Linked DNA regions of Homo sapiens: region 2 is linked to region 1. Evidence: fine-mapped expression QTL. A gene starts in region 1. The other region holds a variant in brackets. All regions are shown on one strand. Distances are from middle to middle.

Region 1 (5,372 bases):
GCCGAGGCTGGCAGATCACGTCAGGAGATCGAGACCATCCTGGCTAACATGGTGAAACCCAGTCTCTACTAAAAATACAAAAATTAGCTGGGTGTGATGGCGCCTGCCTGTAATCCCAGCTACTTGGGAGGCTGAGGCAGGAGAGTCACTTGAACCAGGGAGTCAGAGGTTGCAGGGAGCCGAGGTGGCGCCACTGCACTCCAGCCTGGCGACAGAGTGGGACTCCGTCTCCAAAAAAAAAAAAAAAAAAAGTAGAACTGAAGCAATGAAAACATTTTTCCATTAACCTAACTTGGAATAATATTTTGGATATATTTGGGTTAAATAAAATATTAAAATTAATTTCATAGCTGGGTGAGATGGCTCACGCCTATAATCCCAGCACTTTGCGAGGCTGAGGTAGGAACATGTCTTGAGGCCAGGAGTTCAATACCAGCCTGGGCAACATAGCAAGAAAAAAAAAAGTAAATAATAATGATAAATAAAATGAATTTTACCTGTTTATGTCAAAATTAAAATTGCATATGTGGCTTGCATTACACATAAAAACACACACATATATAATTTTTTTTTTTTTTAAAGAGACAGGGTTCTGCTTTGTCGCCCAAGCTGGAGGGCAGTGGTGCAATCATGGTTCACTGCAGTCTCAAACTCCTGGGCTTAAGCGATACTCAGCCTCTTAAATAGCTGGGACTATGGCCACATGCCACCACGCCTAGCTAGTTTTTTAGTTTTAGTAGAGATAGGGTCTTGCTATGTTACCCGGCCAGTCTCCAACTCCTGGCCTTAAGTGATCCTCCTGCCTCGGTGGCTCAAAGTGCAGGGTATATTTCTCTTAGCTAGTATTGCTCTACATTGTTGTAGTCTGGTGGTGGCCTGATATCCCTACTGGACTGAAAACTCCCTGAAGGTAGGAGTCCAGTCTGTCTGGATTTCTCTTGTGTCTCCATAATCACCCAACCTGACATGGAATAGGTGGTTAATCCATTTTTGTTGAATGAGTGGAAAAATGTGCTCTCCCAGGAAGAAACATATGCTTCCCAGCTTCAAGTGTTAGTGAACATCTTCCTAGAAGGCAGGCTGAGGCGGAAAGGGTATTGACTCCGGCTTCTCCACCAGAGGACCTTGCAATTCCAGTCAATTCCCTCGGTAACTCTTATGGAGGAGTGGCAATATACCTTAAAAAAGGAGTGTGTGTTGCGGGGTATTCCGCTGCTTGGTTATGTCACCAGGTGGATTAAATTTGGACAAAATTTCCCAAGGTGTAGGTACTCTACAAACACTAGTTACCCTCAGGAATGTGCGATCAACAAAAGAATGCAAGATAACAAGGCCCCTAGGCAGCCCCTGGGTCTTGTGGCTCCCGTCGAAGGCAGAGCTCTGGAGCCGCCTACGCCGGGGACAGGCGACTACACCTGGGGCCCCTCACCCTCGGGCCTCCTGCACGTGGCAGGGAAGGCAGGGCGTCTCTATCTCAAAGCATTGGCTGCGCCTGTTACCTGCGACAGGATTCCCGACAAGGGACGGGTACGGCGTGTGCACTCAGGAGCTCCTAGAGCTAGGGGCAGCAACTAAGAAGCTACCTGGCGGATGTTGCGAGAGGACTCCGCCCACAGAACGGTTGGCCCCCAACCCCGCAGCCGGCGGACTTCCCGAGGCCAGGGGTCTGAACGCGCGTGCGCATGGGCGCGCGCCCGGCGCGAGAACGCGCGCGCGCTCTCGAAAGAAAAAAAAAAAAAATCCTCTCCGCGGGGTCCCGCGGCAATTTAGGCCGGGGTCTGCCGACGACCGCGCGTGCGCGGGCGTGCATCTACGCCCTCCTCCACCGCCCCCTCCGCTGGGGGTCTAGCGCACTGCTCCGCTTCCCCCGTTTCCCCCGGGCTAGCGTCCTAGGGGTAAGTGACTCGAGCCTGGCAGAGAGTGAGGGAGAGGTTCCGCCGAATGAAGGGAGGAGGTAGACGGGGCCAGGAGAAAGGAGAAACCGCCCCGGCGGGGCGAAGAGCGCGGCTCTCGAGCTGTAGTCTGCAGGAGACACACCTCCCTCCCTCACGCCCCTCGGGGCTGCGGAAGTGCTCTACAGACTGGAGCTGCACGAAGGCGACCAGCGGACTACCGTTCCTAGGAGGCAGCGCGGCGGTGCGCCTACGGCTCCCGGCAGCCCCCGCGCGCCATTCTCTTTTTGAGTTCGCGGCCGGCTAGGGCGAAACTACAGTTCCCAGGAGGACTCGCGCGAAGCGGCTTGGAAGTGGGCAGCCTGGAAGTCACTCGGGCCACCGGAGCTGGCGGCGTCTCCAGCGAGCGGCGCGGAGCTGGACGCCGCGATCGTGGGGCCCGCGAGGCGGGCAGCCGGGGCGTCCAGGTACGTGGCTCCGGGTGCAGGATCGGCCTCGCGCAAGGGTGGCGGGGAATCGGTGGCTGCCCGGACCCCGAGGGTCAGCGCGGGCGGACGGCCGGGTGTGGGTACTGGCCGTGGGGGGCGGCGGCGCCGGGACTCGCGCCCTCCGGACCCAGCCGGACTCGTGCCCGCATGGCTCAACTTTCCAGGCGTGCACCCCGGCGCTGTGGTGAAGAGCTTGGAGGCGGGGAGCGGTGGATTCGCGTCCCGGCTGTGCCACTCGGGAGCCGCGATCTGGGAAAACCGCGCCGAACCTCAATTTCCCCTGCAGTAAAACGGAGTAGGAGAGCATCTTGGCGGAGACTCTGTTGAGATAATATAATAAAACATTTGGCACATAGGAGGCACTTACTACGTATTTGGGTTATTGTTAGCTCTCCGAAAAATGAGGTGAAGATGTTATCGATTGCATAGGGTGAGGATTAGTTGAGCGTGTGCATGTAAAGAGGTGAGTCCTTAGTTAGCACCCAATGCAGGCTAGCTGCTGTTAACCGAGATTATTTTGTTAAGAGCGTTGGTTTGGAAGGCAGAGAGACCCCAGGTTCAAATTTGAACATTTACCAGCTGTGTGACTTTGGGCAACTGGCTTCACCTCTCTGTGCCTTGGTTTCCCTATCTATAAAATGGGGATTTAAATAGCAACCACTTCGTCGAGTTGTTTTCAGGATGCAGTGAGAATACCATGTGTAAAGTGCTTAGCACAGCAGCTGGCATATAACGCTCAGTAAATGGTACCATTTATTCAGCGTTTTCCTAGTGGCCCAGAGACCCTCTGAGGGTGGGGCTCTGGCCGTAGTATTGGTCACCCCCGAGGGCCAGATTCAGAACTGGTCCAGTTGACTTCCCTTCCTACTACCTCAGGTTCCTCATTTACAAAATGGGATAATAACAAGATCACTCTCAAAGGGTTGTAAGGATTTGCTGAGATTGTATTTCTAGTCCAGCGCCATCTCTCACTAAGTAGCAGCTCTTATGTATTATAATTGTTCTTCAATATTCTCCATCTGGCCCAGAGACTGCCTGACTGTGGGCTGTGACATGACAGCCCTGAGCTCCCCCACACATTTGCTCCCATCCTCAGTGTCCCATCTGTGGAATGGTAGTCATAGGACTTTTGTGCCAGGATTGTTTGGATGGTTCCAGGAGATAATTCATGTTTAGTGCTTTGCACAAGGCCCGGCACACAGTAAGTGCTTATTAAATGATTAAATGTATCTTGCTGTTTTTTTTTTTAATAGGCCCTTTTTGCTTCTGTTTGTACCTACATGGCAGAGTGAGCACAAAGTTAGTGTTTTTTTATCTTCCCCCTCCCTCCCAAATTTTACTTACCAAAGATTAAATTATGGAACACACTATAGTAGAAAGGCCTAAGAAGAAATGGGTCTGACCTGCCATCAGCAGTCCCCTGCTCACACACCCCTCCCCACAGAGCCAGTATGTTCACTCCAGTGCTTTAATTATTGTCCTGGTGCTGCCAGCTTTTGCCTTTGTGTCCCAAAGCCACTGAGTCCCCTGCACTCCAGCTCCAGATGTGGAGCCTGTGCTTCTTTGATGCTGTGGCTCAAAGAAGTGGCTGTTTCTTGGGCACCATAAACTCAGCATGTCCAACCTGAACTCCTTCTCCTCCTGGAACCAGTAGTCACCATCTTGGCAAATGTGCCAGCATTGACCTGGTTGCCTAAGCCAGAAACCTGGGAGTTGCTCTTCTTCCCCAGCCTTCCCATATCCAGTCAACTAGCAAGAAGGACGAAGCTGCCATTTCATAGAAACACCATTTCATTGGCCCATATTGGTCTCCCATCTGATGGGCACTGAAAGTTCCCCTCAGCTTGAGACGGAGTCTTGCTCCATAGCCCAGGCTGGAGTGCAGTGGCACAATCTCAGCTCACTGAAGCCTCCGTCTCCCGGGTTCAAGCAATTCTCCTGCCTCAGCCTCCTGAGTAGCTGGGATTACAGGTGCCCGCCACCACACGTGGTTAGTTTTTTTTTTTTTAGTAGAGATGGGGTTTTCACCATGTTGGCCAGGCTGGTCTTGAACTCCTGACCTCAGGTGATCTACCCATTTTGGCCTCCCAAAGTGCTGGGATTGTAGGGCATGAACCACCGCGCCTGGCTGTGACAAGGTTAAGTCAAGTCATTAGGGATTAACATACGTAAACCTATGTAACATATGTATTAATAAGGGCAAGAAGATGTTATAGACTTGGCTAGACAGCAGTGGCTGTGGATGTGGCATGAAAGCCTGGCTTTCAGGGGACCCAGTTCTGTGATTTTAGCCTGGTAAAGATCGGCTGAGTTGTTAATTTCTTTCAGAAAAGTTAGATGGTGTCAGCGGCTTAGAATATCCCGTGTGGGAGGGTGGCCATCCTGGGCATTTCAGGAGGCAGCACACATACCACACACCCAAGAAGAGGCTGGGAAGGGAATTTATTAGCGCTCCCCTTAGGTTGAGTTTATTGTCAGAAACCTGTCATTGTGATTTCATTTGATGATAGAAACCGGTGGCCTCAATCACATTTGTGATGGCCAACAAATTTACCTAAGCATTTTGCTAACCTGAAGAAGTAAAGCAGTGGCTTAAAAAAAAAAAAAAAAAAGCAGCACGTGGCTTTTTAGCAGTCAGTGTAGAATGAATGATCTAAGAGTTAAATGTGAGTCTGTGTTTCAGACATTGCAGTTGTTAGGTGGTAAATCAAAAGTGGAATTTAGAATGTGCAGTGATTGGTGCCTCATTTTTTTGCTGTAAAATATATTTTACTGATATATTTCAAACATAGTCTTAGTAACTTGTAAAATGTAAATTAAATGTATTTACATTTTAATAAAAGAATTCAATAATCATTTCCTTTAAAATAAAGTGTTTGTTTTTAGCTATTAGAATGAGAGGCTATTTGGCAGGGTGCAGTGGCTCATGCCTGTAATCCCAGCACTTTGGAGGCTGAGGTGGGTGGATCACTTGAGCCCAGGAGTTTGAGAG
Region 2 (5,372 bases), 260 kb after region 1:
AGAAATGAGGCCTTGCCTCAAATTCACGAAATCAGAATATCCCCCCTGGTCCAAGACCTGTTACAGGCAGTGCTGGGGACACAGCGGTGACTGGGGGAGCCCCAGTCCTGCCTGACTGACGCATTCCCAGACAGAGACAGCCCAGAGGGGTCAGGTCAAGATGGGCGAGGCCCAGGCAGAGGGGTCAGGGTCAGGGTGGGGGGCCCAGGCTAAGGGGTCAGGGCTGGGATACAAGGCAGCTGCGAAGAGGGGTCAGGGTAAGATGAGGGGCCCAGGTAGAGGGGCCAGGGTGAGATGAGGGGCCCAGGTAGAGGGGCCAGGGTAAGATGAGGGGCCCAGGTAGAGGGGCCAGGGTGGGCTGGAGGGGGGCCAGGCAGAGGGGTTGGGGCCATGATGGAGGGGTACAGGGATGTGAGAGCCCAAAGGGGGCCCCCCTAACCCAGTTGTGAGAGGGGCCAGCCCAGTTGTGGGAGGGGCTTTCCTGGAGAAAGAGTCTGAGCTAGCCAGGGAAGTCAGGAGGGAAAAGCAGTCCAGACAGAGAATGAGACGGACTCCCACTGTCCATCTCACCCCACCTCACTCCATTGGCCTCCCACAGTCTTCCCATTTCAGTAGGCACAAGTTCCCTGGATGGTCACAGAGCCACCTGCTTGGGGCCAGACCTTGGTTCAAGTGGCCACACGTGCCTCTGCCTCCCATGGCGGCCACACTGCACTGTGCACCGGGCAGCCCAGCAGCCCCCCTCATGTGCTGTCGTCAGAACGTGCCCCTGGGCTGGAGTGACAGCCTGCTCCCCAGCCTCTGCTCCTGGAAGGCAGGCACCTTTGAACAGGCCCAGCATGAGCACTCATTGACTGCCCTATGTCTACCTCCACAGCACTCTGTGGCATAGAACTTGGTATTTATTCACACAGCGAGCGCCTGCTGTGCACCGGGGCCTCTGCAGGGAGCTGGAACAGGCAGACCAGATCCCCACCGTCCTGGTACGGACGGAGGCCCATGGGAAACAGCTAGTGAATAATGCCAAAAGTCATGAATGAATTGTGCCAGGGGACAGCCTGCAGAGACGGGTGGGGTCTGAGGGTGGATGGGATGCAGAGCTGGAGGAGGTGTCTAATCTAGCCTAGGGCCAGCGATAATGTTCCTGAACGAGGGTCACATCTGCCAAGGATGAGGGGGACAGGGAGGAGGGAGCGGGTGAAGGAGGAGAGGGGTTCAGTGGGGCTGGAGAGACATTCATCTGGGATGCAGTTATACAGGTATTTGCTCTGTTTTTGAAATTGTGTGTATATATGCAACATATATATAGACACACACACTTTCTGGGCCTCAATATATGTTGTGAACCTCAGTATGTATATATACAACTATGTATATATACACACATATGTTTTTTTTTAAGTCTGTTGAATTTCTCATTCAGAAGAATGTATATATGACTATTTACCATTAACAAAAAAACAGAAGGGAAAGATGAGGCGTGGAGAAAGTATGTCTATGAATTAGAGTTGCGTGTGCAAAGTCCCTGTGGTAGGGAGGAGGGTGGTATCGTCAGGCCACTGAACACAGGCCCTTGGGCTCAAGTATAGAAATTGTGGCTGGGCACAGTGGCTCATGCCTGTAATCCCAGCACTTTGGGAGGCCAAGGCAGGAGCATCACTTGAGGCCAGGAGTTTGAGACCAGCCTGGGCAACATAGACCCATCTCTATCCCCCTACCAAAACTTTTTTTTTTTTTTTTTTTTTTTTGAGATGGAGTTTCGCTCTTGTTGCCCAGGCTGCAGTGCAATGGCACAGTCTCAGCTCACTGCAACCTCTGCCTCCCAGGTTCAAGCGATTCTCCTGCCTCAGCCTCCCGAGTAGCTGGGATTACAGGCACCTGCCACCACGCCCGGCTAATTTTTGTATTTATAGTAGAGACAGGGTTTCACCATGTTGGCCAGGCTGGTCTCGAACTCCTGACCTCGGGTGACCCACCCACCTTGGCCTCCCAAAGTGCTGAGATTACAGGCATGAGCCACCATGCCTGGCCAAAAATTTTTTTAAATTAGCTGGGTATGGCAGTAGGCTCCTGCAGTCCCAGCTACTCAAGAGGCTGAGGTGAGAGGATCACTTGAGCCTGGAAGTTCGAGACAGCAGTGTGCTGTGATTGCACCACTGCACTCCATCCTGGGTAACTGATTGACACCCTGTTGATCAATCAATCACTCCATCCTGGGTGACAGAGCAAGGCCCTGGAGGTAGGTAGGTAGGTAGGCAGGTAGGGCAGCCAATGGGAGGTTGGGGAAATCAGCAGTGGCCAGAACATTCAGGGCCCTACCAGCTCCATTATGGAGTTTGGATCTCATCTTAAGAGCAGCCAGGGTAATGCGGGTGGATTTGTGTTCCAAAATATGGTGCTGGCAGCGAGACAGGAGGCAAAGTCTCTGAGGGGGCTGAGGCTTGGATCTGCATGGGAGGACGTGGGCCTGAGCTGGAGGACAAAGCAACTGTGGATGTGGCAGCAGGCGGCATTGCCAGGAAGTAAGCTGGGAGGGAGATGCAGGCCCAGGGCAGAGCCAGCAAGCCATGTGAGAGTCC[A/T]GGGTGGCTGCCACGTGTCTGGAGGCTGCCGTGGCCTGGGAGCACCTGAGGTGCTTGTGAGAAGAGGAGGCAGAGTGGGGCAGCCAGCGGGGACTGATTCTTCCAGTCACTGACCTTTGCAGCCCCTACTCTGTGCCAGGTGTCGCAGCATCCTTCCCTTATGGAGCTGTCATTCTCCTGGAGACAGGACAAGACAGACAGACAGCCGAACCACCGTGGAGTGTGCCAGGAGGTGATAAGTGCTGGGGAGGAAAGGCAAAAACAGCGGGTCTCTGGGAAGGCTTCTCAGGAGGTGATGCGTTGTAGGAAGCCAGGGTGAGATCCAGGCAGTGGAAACAGTAGATGACTAGACCCTGAGGGTGAACTTACTCTCAATGCTCCAGAAATGGTCAGGTGGCCAGAGGGGCTGAAGCAGGTGGGATGGGGGGAGAGTGGCAGGAGGTCAGCATAGTGAGGTGGCAGGAGCCTGGTTCTAGCGGGCATATTGACCAAAGTCAGATGCTGGGATTTGGTTCCAAGGGACATGGGAGCCATGGGAGGCATTTGAGCACATCATCTGACTTAATGTTTTTAAAAAGATTACTGTGGGCTGGACGTAGTGGCTCACACCTGTAATCCCAGCACTTTGGGAGGCTAAGGCAGGTGGATCACTTGAGCCCAGGAGTTCAAGACCAGCCTGAGCAACATGGCAAAACCCCATGTCTACAAAAAATTAGCTGGGTGTGGTGGCACACGCATGTTGTCCCAGCTACTTGGGAGGCTGAGGTTGGAGGATTGCTTGACCCCGGGAAGTGGAGGCTGCAGTGAGCCGAGATCACATCACTGCACTCAGCCTGGGTGACAAAGTAAGACCTTATCTCAAAAAATGATAATAATAAAATGTAAAAATGAAAAAATAGAAAAGATCACTGTGGGCTACTCTGGAGAGGACGGACTATCTTGGGCAGGGGGAGGATGGTGGTCAGCATTCAAAGGCTGCCAGGAGAGGGATGGGTCCTGACACGCCCAAGCGGGGAGCCCCCTACCCTCCCTTCCCCGGGCTGCGGCCCTTGCCGTGGAAGCAGGTGCAGCCTGTAGCAGCTTGTGCCCATCGATGACCTCACAGATGCTCCCTCCAGACATTCGTCATGGGAGCCCAGCTGCCAGGCATGCTGCCAGGCGCCAGTGCCTGCCATGGGCACCGCAGTGGGCTGAGTGATCCTGGGCGGGCAGCCACCTGGCCCTCGCCCTCTCCTGAGGCAGCACGCACTCCAGAGCTTTCTGGGCTTCCAGAGCAATTTGTCAGAGCTGTTAGGAGCAGTCATAGGCTCTCGGCTCCACATGGAGCTGACGCAGCCGGGCGTTCCCAGGCAGGCAGGAAGCACGTGGCCTTGCTTCCCCAGGCTGCGCCAGGAGTCCCTGGGATGCCCTTCTGGGGACACAGCCCTGAAAGGTAATCTGAGGGCCTGAAGATCCACCGGGGCCCACCCTGCCTGTGAGTGTTGGGAGGCTGGGGTCACCTGAGACAGAGACCTCCTCGGAGAGTCACAGCTTGGGAAGAGGAAGCGAGGCCGTCTCCTGGAACTCAAGGGAGTGCGGAAGCCAGGCAGAGATCTGCAGGGCGGGGAGCAGTGCAAAGGTCCCAAGGTAGCAGTGTTTCTGATGTGTTTGAGGAACAGCTTCCGCATGGCTGGAGCAGAGTGAAGGAGAGGGAGTGTGGAGGAGCTGGGGGCAGAGAAGAGAGGGGGGCAGATGGGGGGCCCTGTCGGGAGGGCTCTGGGTCTTACCCAGAGTGAGGTGGAACCCTGAGAGAGTCCTGATCTGATTCACATGTTCCCAGGATCTCTCTGGCTGTGTGCTGAGGCTGGGGAAGGATGCAGGAGGAAGAGGGAGCCAGGAGGAGGCCGCTCTGACAATACAGGTGGCAGTGGTTGGTGGAGGTAGCGAGCAGTGGCTTGATTGGTATCTCTGTTGAATCTCTTGCCTAGACCCTCTCTGTGTCTGCTTCCTGAAGACCCGTCGCTTCTGCCCCACAGGCCACAGGGGCAATGTGGCTGCTTACGGCTCCTACACTGGAGCACAATTCCAGCCGCATGCAGGGATGAATTGGTTCTCCAGCCCATGACACACGTCAGGGAGAGAAAGCAAGATTGGTCCAGGGTGAAGGCCAAGTGGCTGGGGGCCCTCGGGGTATGTGGGTGAGCAGTGTGACTTCAGGGCTCTTCCTCTGACTGCCTATGTCTACATCACAGCTCCACCTCTTACCCCAACTGCGTGATCTCTCTCAGGCCCCTTAGGTGCTCTGAGGCTCAATGTCCTCATCTGTAAAATGGGGGTAATAGGATCTGTCAACCAGACACGGTGGCTCGCCTCTCATCCCAGCACTTTGGGAGGCCGAGGCGGGCGGATCACCTGAGGTCAGGAGTTTGAGACCAGCCTGGCCAACATGATGAAACCCCGCCTCTACTAAAAATACAAAAATTAGCCAGGTGTGGTGGCGGGTGCCAGTAGTCCCAGAGACTCGAGAGGCTGAGGCGAGAGAATCACTTGATTGCAGTGAGCTGAGATGGCACCACTGGACTCCAGCCTGGGTGACAGAACTAGACTCTTTCTCAAAAAAAAAAAAAAGGATCCTCCATCTAAAGTTGTGAGGGCGAACTGAGACCATGAGTTTAAAGCACTTATCACAGGACTGGAGACATAGCTGGGCTCAAGTGTATCAGCTGCTGCTGTGTTTTATTCTCATGTATTATGTATTGATATTTATCGTTAACAGTTGTTGTCACTGGGAGTACAGAATGGTGGTTAAAATAT

The links. PIP is the estimated chance that this variant, and not a neighbour inherited with it, causes the effect.
Region 2: its variant is fine-mapped to the expression of SIPA1L3 in aorta (GTEx, PIP above 0.99). The same link has a PIP of 0.9 or more in atrial appendage.

What each region holds. Positions count from the first base shown.
Region 1 is chr19:37,905,000-37,910,371 of GRCh38, forward strand. SIPA1L3 (signal induced proliferation associated 1 like 3) reads left to right here and starts at 2,209. Exons shown (of 22, transcript NM_015073.3): 1 at 2,209-2,359. WDR87 (WD repeat domain 87) reads right to left here and starts at 1,595. Exons shown (of 6, transcript NM_001291088.2): 1 at 1,500-1,595. RefSeq lists a silencer at 2,321-2,560 and an enhancer at 2,861-2,920.
Region 2 is chr19:38,169,662-38,175,033 of GRCh38, forward strand. The region is part of intron 15 of SIPA1L3 (signal induced proliferation associated 1 like 3); the gene reads left to right. Among named protein-coding and RNA genes, the nearest start is that of SNORD152, 9.3 kb to the left of the region's middle. RefSeq lists an enhancer at 779-1,340. The variant A/T (reference allele first, on the strand shown) is at 2,580.